Linked DNA regions of Homo sapiens: region 2 is linked to region 1. Evidence: fine-mapped expression QTL. Tissue or cell type: whole blood. Region 1 holds a variant in brackets; the other region holds the start of a gene. All regions are shown on one strand. Distances are from middle to middle.

What was found. PIP is the estimated chance that this variant, and not a neighbour inherited with it, causes the effect.
Region 2: it holds the start of NDUFS4, and the variant in region 1 is fine-mapped to the expression of NDUFS4 in whole blood (TOPMed, PIP above 0.99).

What each region holds. Positions count from the first base shown.
Region 1 is chr5:53,586,335-53,593,670 of GRCh38, reverse strand. The region is part of intron 1 of NDUFS4 (NADH:ubiquinone oxidoreductase subunit S4); the gene reads right to left. Among named protein-coding and RNA genes, the nearest start is that of NDUFS4, 29 kb to the right of the region's middle. The variant T/A (reference allele first, on the strand shown) is at 3,547.
Region 2 is chr5:53,557,488-53,563,865 of GRCh38, reverse strand. It overlaps NDUFS4 (NADH:ubiquinone oxidoreductase subunit S4), which reads right to left and starts at 3,227. Exons shown (of 5, transcript NM_002495.4): 1 at 3,106-3,227. The coding sequence starts at 3,203. RefSeq lists an enhancer at 2,826-3,325.

The DNA of each region.
Region 1 (7,336 bases):
AGAAAAGAAGAAAGGTCTAACTAAATTCAATAATCTAAGCTTCCACCACAGGAAACTAGAAAAAAAAAAAGGGCAACATAAACCTAAGGCAAGAAGAAGATAAAAAAAATTATAGTAAACATCAATGAAATTGTAAATAGGAAATTGGTAAAGAAAAATAAACAAAACCAAAAGCTGTTCTTTGAAAAGAGCATTAAAACTGATAAACCTTTAGTCAGGTTAACAAAAAAGAGAAACAGACAGATGAGAGAGAGAGAGAGAGAGAGACAAAGCCCTAATATATAAAATGAAACAGGTATCATCACTCCTGATCCCACGGACATTAAAAAAACAGGGAAATATTATGAACAACTCTAAGCTCACAAATTTGATAACTTAAATGAAATGGGCTAATTATTTGAAAAACAGGAATTACTAAAACTCTCACAAGGAGCAATAATCGGGACAGGCCTATATCTATTAAAGATAATGAATCAATAATAACCTTCCAAAAAAAGAAACCATAACGTCCAGATGTTTCCTGGTGAATTCTACCAAATATTTAAGGAAGAAATGACACTAAATCTCTACAATCTCTTCTAGGAAATAGAAGCATGTAGTACCTCATTCTATGGGACCAGCATTACCCAAACATCAAAACTAGATAAAGGCATTACAGGAAAGGAAAACTATAGACTAATTCTCTTATAAATATAGATGCAAAAATTCTTAACAGATATTAGCACTAAATTCAACAATGCATGAAAAGATTTATATACCATGACCAAGCAGGATTTATTCCAGGCATGATTCTAAAATTCATATGGAAAGACAAAAGACTCAAAATAGCCAATGCAATACTGAAGAATGAAGTCAGAAAACTGTTATTACCCGACTTTAAGACTTACTACACACTGCACAGCTATAGTAATAAGGACTGTGGTATTAGCTATAAAATAAATAGATGAATGGAACAGAAATAGACTATTCAAATATAGTCAACTGATCTCTCAGAAAGAAACAAGGGCAATCCAATAATGACAGTCTCTTCAATAAATGATGCTGGTACAACCAGACATCCACATGCAAAAACTTAATCTACACAGTGACATTACACCTTTCACAGAAATTAACTGAAAATGGCTCATGAACCTAAATGTAGGAAGCAAAACAATCAAATTTCTCAAAGATAATGTAAGAGAAAATCTAGGTGACCTTGGGTTTGGTACTGAGTTTTCAGATACAATGCCAAAAAAATGATCCATGAAAAATAAATAAGTTGGACTTCATTGAAATTAACAGCTTTAGCTCTGTGAAAGATACTATTAATATTAAAAGAATGAAAAGACAAGCCACATGCTAGGAGAAAATATCTGCAAACTATATATCTGATTAAGAAACTTTATCTACAATAAACAAAGAACTCTTAAAACTCAACAATGCCGGGCGCAGCGGCTCACACCTGTAATCCCAGCACTTTGGGAGGCCGAGGCGGGCGGATCACTTGAGGTCAGGAGGTCAAGACCAGCCTGGCCAACATGGTGAAATCTGCCACACCCCCTCATCTCTACTAAAAATACAAAAAATTCGCCAGGCATGGTGGCACGTGCCTGTAATTCCAGCTACTCAAGAGGCTGTGGCAGGTGAATCACCTGAACCTGGGAGGCAGAGGTTACAGTGAGCCAAGATTGCGCCACACTGCACTCCAGCCTGGGCAACAGAGCGAGATCCCGTCTCAAAACAACAACAACAACAAAACTCATCAATAAGAAAACAAACAACCCAACTGAAAAGTGGGCAAAAGATCTAAACAGACACCTCACCAAAGAAGATATACAGATGATAAATAAGTATATGAAAAAGTGCTCAATATCATATGTCATTAGGAAATTATAAATTAAAATGACAGTGCTACACACCTATTAGAATGGCTAAAATCCAAAATACCACACCAAATTTGAGAAAGGATGAAGAGAACAGAAGTCTCATTCATCGCTGGTGGGAATGCGAAATGGTACAGCCAATTTGGAAGACAGTCTGGCAGTTTTCTACAAAGCTAAAACATAGTTTTAACATAGGATCAGCAACTGTGCTCCTAGGTATTTACCCAAATGAGCTGAAATCATATGTCCACACAAAAACATGCAAAAGAGTGCTAGGGAAATGAAAAAGAAAACCATAAGATACCACTTCATATTTATTACGATAGTTATTATCACCCCCCCCCCCCAAAAAAAACAAACAAAAAGTAGCAAGTACTGGCAAGGATGTGAAGAAAATGGAACACTTGCTCACTGCTGGTGGGAATGTAAAATGACACAGCCATTACAGAAAACAGTAGTGTGATTCCTCAAAATATTTAAAATAAAATTACCATATAATCCAGCAGCTTCACTTTGGGATTTATATTCAGACAAACTAAAGCAGGGACTAGAACAGATATCTGTACACTCATGATTATAGCAGCATTATTCACAGCAGCCAAAAGACAGAAGCAACCCTACTGTCCACTGGCAGATGAATGTGTAAACAAAATGTGGTATATACATACAATTGAATATTATTTTGCCTTAAATGGAAGCAGATTATGATATATGCTACACCATGGAAGAACCATGAAGACATTGTGATAAGTGAAATAAGCCAATCACAAAAGAATAGTATATGATTCTATTTATATGGGGTATCTAAAGTAGTCAAACTCACAGAAACAGAAAGTAAAATGGTAGTTGCCAGGGGCTTATGAGAGAGAAGAATAGAGAATTACTGTGTAATGGGTACAGACTTCAGTTTTAGAAGATGAAAAAGTTCTGGAGATATATGATGGTAATGGTTGCACAACAATGTGAATGTACTTAATGCCAATGAAATATACTTAAAAATAGTTAAAATGGTAAATTTCATAGTATGTATAAACCACGACAATATTTTAAAAAGAGCATGCCTTGTGAAGAAACAGATAATCCCTGGTTTACAACACCAATAAAGACACATATGCAAAAGTTTGTCAAAGATGAAGAAGATTTATAACTGCCTAGAGACAGTCTCTTCACATATGTACATAAAAATAGTATGTTTGTATCTATTAATCACTCATCTCCTTGGAAAATTTCAGAAGTCCAGAATTAAGCTGTTGAACTTCAATATGATTATTCATTTGTACTGCCTCATGGAACAAATTTTCCCAAATTATATACTTTTTAAAAACTACTAGTGCTTGCCTATGTAACACAAAATATGAGATAGTTTTTGTTATATGTCCTACCAATTATTAACCTCTTGATTTTTTAGACTTTGCATAGCATCATTATCCAACATGTTCTACATAAAAATAGTTGATAACTGTGAATCTTTATTAATAGATTTATGTTATAAGCAAGCACATAAGAGCAAATCTTAAATATGCTTATGAAAATGTAACAGACAAAACACAAGGAAAAGGATGTCCAATTAACCAGTTTACTCCTCTACTGGACATTTCTGGCTAAACTGCCTAGTTCACCTTTCAGCAACAAGACCCTTAATTCAATCAAAACAGGATTACTTCAAAGCTATTTGGCATTTTTT[T/A]AAAAAAATCATTCTACCAATCAATCATGCGTAATTCTCTATATTCCTCAAAAGGCTTGTTAGTCATTCCAGCTGGGCACCCATATTCCAGTTCTTCTCTGTATTAGTCAGGGTTCTCTAGAGGGACACAACTAACAAGGGAGTTTATTAAGTATTAACTCACACCATCACAAGGTCCCACAATAAGCCATCTGCAAGTTGAGGAGCAAGGAAAGCCAACCCGAGTCCCAAAAATGAAGAACTTGGAGTCTGATGTTCAAGGGCAGGAAGCATCCACCACGGGAGAAAGATGTATGGCTGGGAGGCTAGGCCAGTCTAGTCTTTCCATGTTTTTCAGCCTGCTTTACAGTCTAGCCACACTGGCAGCTGATTAGATGGTGCCCACCCAGATTACGGGTGGGTCTGCCTTTCCCAGCCCACTGACTCAAATGTTAATCTCCTTTGGCAACACCCTCACAGACACACCCAGGATCAATACTTTGCATCCTTCAATCCAATCAAGGTGACACTCAGTATTAATCATATTCTCCTTCTAATCGTATTTTGAGACTACACTCCCATTGCCACTTCTTGGTTAGGTGTAGGAACGTAACTTACCTAAATTAGTGAAGTATAAGGGGAAATGACATTATCCAGCAGTAGCTTTAGAAGTCAATGCCTAACTGCCTCTTTTCCTACATCCCAGTAACCAACAGTAGTTAGTCTGAGTTCCCAAGTGAGGATACACGGAGTAGCATTCCTGACTGTCCCACAAGGGAAATGCAACATGAACAAGAAATAAATCTCTGTTATTTTAAGCTACAGGTATTTTGGGGTTTAGGATCCTGACTGACACAGTTTGATAAGCAATTCTCTATTCAAGTGCTTCTCTAGGGACTACCATACGAGAATTTAAATTGTATGATGTCTGTTTTACATTGACTGAGGTTGGGAGTGTTACAGCTTGAGAGTTTACTATTTTCAAATGAATCAAGATGTTGCTCTTAAAAACCTACGTTTTGGTCTTTAAGGGCAGAATAATTTATTTTCTTACGCTTTTGAAGGTCAGAAGGGGTCAAAAAGCCATTAGATGATCTGCTTCACAACTGCTCTAATGCTACTGTGTCATCTTGGACAGATCACCTCCTAATTTTTTTTTTTAAGATGGCTATGCATTTTCTCTTCACTTTCAAGTGTTCCAACTTGTCACTTTTTGCTTCGGTTTAGGAATCTTTTGGTCTAAAACTTCTCTGTATCAGCCCTAAAACCACTGAGATTACATTTGTATAAAAAATATATTAAAAATAAAATAAAAAGTGAATTCAAAAATAAAATATGGTGACAATATAAGACATGATATTTCATTGTTTGGCAATATTACATCAAAGGGAAAGCTAGTTGGTACAAGTTGCATACTTCAATTCAAAAATAAAGTGCCTAAGAGTGGTGTATTTGCAAATGGACTGACATATTGTTTTTTAAAAGGCTGATGATCACATCATTAAGAATAATGAATACATGCAGAAGAAAACAAAAATTACCAGCATTCATATATTTTTCACTTCATGAAACAAACTGGATAACAGTCATGTAGTAACTTCACAGTCAGTCAGACTCGTGAAAATTCCAGATCTGCCACTTAAGAGCAATATGATCTTGAACAAATTATTTCACAACTCTGCACTTCAATTTCCTCATCTGCAAAAATAAGGATAATAATACCGCAAATAATTACTGGTAGAATTAAATAACTAGTTAAGTAATTGGCATGAAGGAGCTGGTGTGCGGAGAAACAAATGTTCACTTCTTTCCCTCTAGTCACAAGCAGGACCAATTCATAGGAAGGCAAGAGAGGAAAGAGAACCCCACTGAAGGCTCAGATGATCGTTAACATTCTTGAGCTGAGCAGTAAAGAATTTTTAAATTAGGGTACGTACACTGTTTTTTAGACATAATGCTACTGCACACTTAACAGTCTACAGTGTGGTGGAAAAATAACTTTTATCACTGGGAAACCAAAAAATTTGTGTGACTCGCTTTACCATGGTATTTGCACAATCTAGTGGTGGTCTGGAACCAAACCTGCAGTATCTCCAAAGCATGCCTGTACAACAATCACTTATTAATAATTGGCCTCTCTGCCTCTAGTCTTCTCTTCCTCAAAGGCACCTTCAACCTAAACAAGTAATTATTATACCCAATCATGTGACTCTTTTGGTTGAAATCCTTCATTGACTGAGTGGTAATTTACCTTAAAAAAGTGAAGTATTGCCAGGCATGGTGTCACACCTGTAATCCCAGTTCTTTGGGAGACTGAGGCCGGTGGATCCCTTGAGCCCAAGAGTTCAAGACCAGCCTGGGCAACATGGTGAAATCCCGTCTCTACCAAAAAACACAAAAATTAGCTGGGCATGGTGGCACATGCCTGTGGTTCCAGCTACTTGGGAGGTTGAGGTGTGGAGTATCACATGAGACCAGAGGGCGGAGGATGCAGTGAGCCATGATAGCACCACATGCTCCAGCCTGTGAGACAGAGCGAGACGCTGTCTCAAAAAAAAAAAAAAAGTATTTAGGGATGGAATACCATGATATTTATAATTGAGTTTCAGATGGCTTAGATCAATATATGTGTTTGTCTGTTGCTAATCTATACATACTCAAATATATGCCTTTTGCTCATTTATATACATATATATGCAAAATAAGCAAAACCAGCAAAATACTAACCACTAACCATGTTAAATCTAGGTGGTAGGTTTATAGATTCACAGCACTCCACTTTTCTGCATGTGTGAAAATTTTAATGGAAAGTTAAAAAATTGAAAGCAACATGAAAATTACAATTAGTATGCCTCCTCTGTGGAAAAATGGGCAAGAATAATATATTTTCTTAAATATGCATAAACGGACTCCAAGCATAAGAAACTAATAATGATTTTTTGGGAGTGGGGTAAGCAGTGGTAAATGAGCAGATGGGATAGAGAAGGAGACTCTTAGAATTTATTTTATATATATATAACTCGGCCGGGTGCAATGGTTCACGCCTGTAATCCCAGCACTTTGAGACGCCGAGGCAGGCAGATCACTTGAGGTAAGAAGTTCGAAACCAGCCTGGCCAACATGGTGAAACCCCGTCTCCACTAAAACAAAAAAAATTAGCCAGGCATGGCGGCACATGCCTGTAATCCCAGCTACTCGGGAGGCTGAAGCAGAAGAATCATTTGAACCCGGGAAGTGGAAGTTGCAGTGAGCCGATATTGTGCCAATGCACTCCTGCCTCAGTGACAAGAGTACAACTCCATCTCAAAAAAAAGGAAGAAACAGGCTGGGCACGGTGGCTCACGCCTGTAATTCCAGCACTTTAGGAGGCCAAGGCAGGCGGATCACAAGGTCAGGAGATCAAGACCATCCTGGCTAACACGGTGAAACCCCGTCTCTACTAAAAAATACAAAAAATTAGCCAGGCATGGTGGTGGACGCAAGTAGTCCCAGCTACTCAAGAGGCTGAGACAGGAGAATGGCATGAACCTGGGAGGCGGAGCTTGCAGTGAGCCAAGATTGCGCCACTGCACTCCAGCCTGGGCGACAGAGTGAGACTCCGTCTCAAAATAAATAAATAAACAAACAAACAAACTAACTAACTAACTAAACAATTCATTTTCCTGAACAACTACAGTAAAGTTTGCTACCTATGGCCTGTTCTAATGCAATCATTTTTCTGAAATCAGATTCAAATCAAGGAAAGATTTAGTAATAAGTTACTATAACTAGAGATTATTTGAGTTTTTTGTTTTGGTTTGTTTTTTTTTTT
Region 2 (6,378 bases), 29 kb after region 1:
AAATTTACCCTGGAAAATCTCTTAGGAAAGTCAGGGAAAGTAAGGATAAATGTAGACAACTTAGGGATGGGCGCGGTGGCTCCCGCCTGTCATCCCAGCACTTTGGGAGGCCGGGGCGGGTGGATCACCTGTGGGTAGGAGTTTGAGACCAGCCTGGCTAACACGGTGAAACTCCATCTCTACTAAAAATAAAAAAATTAGCTGGGCGAGGTGGTGGGCACCTGTAATCCCAGCTACTCTGGAGGCTGGGGCGGGAGAATCGCTTGAACCCGGGAGGCAGAGGTTGCAGTGAACTGAGATTGTGCCACTGCACTCTAGAATGGGTGACAAGAGCGAAACTACATCTCCAAAAAAAAAAAAAATGTAGACAATTTAACCCCTTTTTTTGCCTCCTCACATTCGGTACAGGGAAATGAGAAGCACATGGAAACTGAGACCAACACTACAGCACAAGCTCAGTAAGTAACTAGATCAGCTCAATCACCCACATTACTAGATTTTTTCTCTCTTGTGTGTATGTGTTGTTGCATTCTTTGTTTTGCTTTTCACTGATGATATACTATAATTGAATTAATATGTTAATGTAGCAGCTAACAGCATCCTTCCTTTTCTTTTTTTTTTTTTTTTTTGTTTTTTTGAGACACAGTCTGGCTCTGTTGCCCAGGCTGGAGTGCAGTGGCGCGATCTTGACTCACTGCAAGCTCTGCCTCCCGGGTTCACGCCATCCTCCTGCCTCAGCCTCCTGAGTAGCTGGGACTACAGGCGCACGCTGCCACGCCTGGCTAATTTTTTGTATTTTTAGTAGAGACGGGGTTTCACCGTGTTGGCCAGGATGGTCTCGATCTCCTGACCTTGTGATCTGCCCGCCTCGGCCTCCCAAAGTGCTGGGATTACAGGTGTGAGCCACCGCGCCCGGCCCTTCCTTTCCTTCAGTTCCCTACTCCACTCCTTACCTTACTGATTCCACTTCCCATATTCTATTCAAATGATCTGAAATGTTACATGATTTGCAAATGTTTTTCTAAGCATTACAATAAAATGAATTTTAGATGTAGATTTTCCCATTAATTGGTTCTTTCTACTCACCTTTTTCAGATCCTCATTACTATCAAATCATAATGGAAAAAGAATGCTTAAGGATGAAGAACAAACAATATGTAAGGGAGAGGGTCTATAAATTTCCCTCAAATTAGGATGAACATGACAAGCTCTTAGGGTAAAAATGTGGCACAGAAAACAAATAAATGTGTTAATTTGTATTTAAAAAACGTCTTCCCTGGCATTAAGATTTTTTTTCAAGATTAAATGATTTATTTTCAAATCTCTTACATTTGCAGGCAAAAACTCTTAAGTTTGGATATGTAGTAACAATTATCATCAGAGTTTCAAAAATCTAATCTCAACTTCAATTACTATAATTGCTGACAAAATGGCTTTGACTTAAAATTACAGCCATGTTTTGATTAGCCATAAACCAGTGGTCCCTTCAAACTTGTTTTCAGTTCTGGGGCTACCATGAGTACATTATTATCTGGGAATGACAATTAATCCCTATAATCTGTACGGGAGGAAGGGCTAATCTTGGTCACCGCTATATTAACTCTAAGTTAACCAGTGAAGTATTTTACCTTAGAAAAATACTTAACCCAGCCTGACCAACATGGTGAAACCCCGCCTCTACTAAAAATACAAAAATTAGCCAGGTGTGGTGGTGCGCGCCTGTAATCCCAGCTAGTCAGGAGGCTGCGGCAGGAGAACTGCTTGAACCCGGGAGGCGGAGGTTGCAGTGAACCAAGATCACGCCATTGCACTACAGCCTGGGCGTCAGAGTGAGAATGTATCTCAAAAAAAAAAAGAGAAAGAAAAAGGAAAAATACTTTCCATATATGGAACACTTAATTACAAACATCATTTGCCTTTCCCCAATCTTAGCACCCTTACTTTTGAGTGACTCTATTCTATGTATTTAGTAATCGTTTAACTAATGCTTTCAAGCCTTTTCATAAGCCACGGACCCTACGGGACACTCTCTTCTTTCCCACCCAACACCCACTATATTTAAACCTTAATAAAACTCATCCTTAAAAATTCTTCCGAATTAACTCATCCTAATTCTCTGCATTCCATTTATATTTAACACTAAATCAATTAGCATTCTACTAGACCTTCCTTTCAACTTTTAACCACTTGCATCCACCTCCTACCCCCTTCAAATCTCTCCATCCAGTCTTTCCAATCTTTGTTCTAATATGTGTGTGTATGTACGTATAGCATTAGTACTATAATTTAAAAAACTCCAGGAAATTCTGAAAAATAGAAAATGGAAGGTTAATACAGCCAAAAAAAAAAAAATCATCACAAAAATGCTTCAAGGAAAAACAGTAACAACTCAATCAACTGACAACTGAATCTGACAATACTTTGGAAAAGTACTACTTTAGGTTCTCAAGGACGCAAAGAGCCCTCAACAACTCAATTCAATCCCTGAATTATTGTGAGGCTTTAACAAAATCCCTAGAAAACCTCCAGGCATTACCACCAGCCTTTTAAAAATTACCTTCCAATATTACTAGCAGTGATATTTTTACTAACACTGAATTCCAAACAAGTTTTCCTCCCAAGCAGACTGATGAATAAACAATCTTCCTATGCAGAAACCAAATTAAAACCACTTAAAACCATGGAAGGGATACAGTGATTTAACCCTTCTGTAAGGACTGGAGTGGTGGGCAAACAGGTGACAAATGGAAGGGATGCAGAAAGTGGAAACAGAAATCAGTGAGACTCCTCCCCTTCTCTGAGGGCTAAGGTTCAGCTTGCAGCTCCGGAGGCAAAACCTCCACGGACCCTCTCCCTCAGCGACAAGCCGAATACGAAAGCTTCCAGAAAACCACAGGTCCTCCTCCCCGGCCTCGCACTCACGCCCTCACTCGCCTGGCCAACGCCCATTGATAGCAGACAGTCCCTAGTCCGCCCGACTTCTCCCGAGAAAAGGGTCAACAGAGGACGCCTTCCCCGAGGCCTCCTCCGGAACTCAGCCAGCAGAGACTCCGCAAAAATGGAGGGACCCAAGAAGCTTGAAGAAAAGTGTGAAAATTCTATTACCTGGTCGGAACCCTGGAAACGGAAAGGGCAGCTACAGCCACTGCCCTTCTCCGCCACAACGTCTGCCTCAGTACCACTGACATTGACACCGCCGCCATCTTGCTGCAGGCAAACGCCAGGATGAAAGGACGGATCACCGCAAGGGACTAACTTCCTTCGTTCTCAAGCCAGTGCAATCGCAATGTTGCGAAATTCTTTGGGATTTTATTTTCTTTTTAATACTGGGGCTTAAAAAAAGAGGGGAAACGCTTAGTTTAAATAAGTAAGAAGAAAAATGTGCGGGAAGAAATGCAGAAGTGCATTAACTGTAAATATTACCACCATAAAGTGTAATCTTTACTGCTTGTTAGGACTGGTGTTTTACAATGATAACGAAAAGACCAAAATATACTTGCATATTTAAACACCTGCAACTCGTAATTTATTGAAGAAATTAGGATATTTGGGGCTGAACCCACTGGAAAAGCTGGAGAGCTCTTTGGGTCCTTGAGAACCTGCAGTAGTACTTTTCCAAAGTATTGCCAGATTCACTTTGCAAGCCCTCAGGACAGGGCTGTATTCAGTTTGATATTCTGTAGTAGTAATGTTCGTATTTTCCAAACGAAAAATCTGGATACGTGATCTGGCAAAGGATTATTTTTTGACATGTAGATTTATATGAAGAATCAATAGAACATAATATTTGATGTCACTGTTTCCCCAGTAAATCCTGAATGTGTGTGTGTTCATAATCCATAGACATGAAGAATGATATTAATGCTCCATGCATATAAAACAAAAATTATCTTCCAATACAAGTGTTGGAAACATGTTTGTATTGTGGACTTCCGACCTTAAAGAATAATGACTAACTGAATTATATAAAATAAAAAGCAGGTTAGTTTTGGGTTTTGTTTTTTAAGAAATTTGTTTAAAGAGTTAGTACTTTCCTGCTTTTAAAATTAAGCACATGAAAACATAACCTTCATTAAATAAATAGGAACAATAGGAGGATGGGGAATGACATAGTTTGGCATTATGGACCGTTAAAGGAAAACCCAGTACATAAGGGAAAGGGAGAAAGAAAGAGAAAAAGTCATACTCAGGGAAAGAAATGCACAAGATGAAGGAAGGCAAGGGAGAGATGCCTCAGAGAAAATTTTCTTTCAAACTTTTCATTTTGAAATAGTTATAGATTCACATGAAGTTGCAAAGATAGTACAGATGTCTTGTGTACCTGTTTCCCCCAGTGATTACATCTCGTATAACTCTAGTACAGTATCAAAGCCAGGAAACTGGCATTGATATAAAGTATTTGTGTAGTCCTATGTCATTCTACTACATATTTTGTGTAACCACCACCATGATCAAGATACAGAACTATTCCACCCTCACAAAGATCTCCCTAGTGCTAACCTTTTTGGTAACACCTGCCCTCCTAACCCTAGTGATCTCTGTTTCTGTTTTTATAATTTTGACATTTTGAGATGTTATATGAATGGACTCATGCAGTACATGACCTTCTAAGATTGGCTTCTTTCACTTGGCATAATGCACTTGAGACCCATCCAAGTTGTTGTGTTTATCAATAGTTCATTCCTTTTTTATTGCTGAGTAATATTCCATGACATGGATGTACCACAATTTGTTTAACCATTCACCTATTGCAGAACATTTTGATTGTTTCCCATTTGGGGCCATTACAAATAAAACTGCTGCAAACAATTGAATACAGGTTTTTATGTGGACAAAAATCTTCATTTCTCTGAGATAAATGCCCAGGAGTGCAATTGCCAGGTCATGTGATACATGTATGTGTCATTTTTTAAAGAAATTAAAAACTGTTTTCCAGAGTAACTGTAACATTTTACATTTCCTCCAGCAATGTATGAGAGATCCAGTTTCTCCATATCCTCACCAGCATTTTCTATTATTGCTATTTTTGTTTTAGCTGAGCTAAAGTAAATAATAAATGTGCAGTAATACCTCATCACAGTTTTACATTTATTCCCCTGGTGGCTAATAATGTTGAATATCTTTTCATGTTTTTATCTGCCATCTGTATATTCCATTCAGTTAAATGTCCTTATGTCTTTTGCCCATTTTCTAATTAGCATTATTTGGTTTTTTACCTGTACATTTTGAGAGTTCTTCATATATTAGATGTGTCTTTTGTCAGATGCATGATTCACAAATATTTTCTTCAATCTGTAGTTTGTATTTTCATTCTCTTGACAAGATCTGCCACAGAACAAATATTTTTAATTTTGATGAAGTCCAGTTTATTCATTTTTTAAATTTATGGATTGTGCTTTTGCTGTCATGTCTGAGAACTATTCTCTAATCCTGTATCCTAAAGATTTTATCTTGTTTTCTTTCAAAGGTTGTTTTAGTTTTGCCTTTTACATTTAAGTCTATGTAATTTTTGTGAGTTAAGTTTTCCATTAATAGGTGTGAGGTTTAGGTTCAGGTTTTTGCTTGTGGCTATCCAATTGCTCTAGCACTACTTATTGAAAAGTTTATCCTTCTTCCATGGAGTCCCTTTTGCACCTTTGTCAAAATATCAGTTGGCCATACTTGTGTGTGGCTATTTCTGGGTTCTCTATTTCAGAGAGAAATTTTAAGCCCAAGGGTGGCTTTGGTGTCTGGGTGAATTTTAATAAAGATTTTCTATGTGAAGGAATAATGGGATGTGTCCCAGTGTTCATAAGAGCAACTTCCTATAGCCCTGTTACTGGCCCTACCAACCAAAGCTCAACCTCTCCACCTAACACCTATTCTAGTCCCCAACTTCCATGGATCTGAATTCCCCAGGAAAGCCCCCGGTCTCTAGTCTCTTTGTCTTTTGTACAGCCCATAATCCAACATCAGCATTGCCAGAACCCTAGTGGAATCTTTGATTCCCTTCACTTTCTGCTGGATTCCCTCAGCTGCCCATTCCTGAGGTCCTTTCTGACCTTATATACAGGATATAGGTGTTAGAATGGAACAGAAATAACTTGGTATGTTCATTTATTTATACTATTTCACCTATACCACAGGCTGTACCATTAAGCTTAATAGAATGTCTAGGTCCAAGTGCCATTTTGTTATTTCAATGTGCTGCCCCAGAAGTTGTTAACTACTAGAGTCCACTTCTTTGCCTCTTCTCTAGTCATCCTCCTTGCCCTTCAGATCACAGCTGTGAGTCACATCCTTCAGAGTCACTCCCCATGGTAGAAACTACGTCTTACAGGCATTTTTCACCTCCGCCATCCTTGCTGACAGAGCCTGACTCCTATGATAGAGACTAAA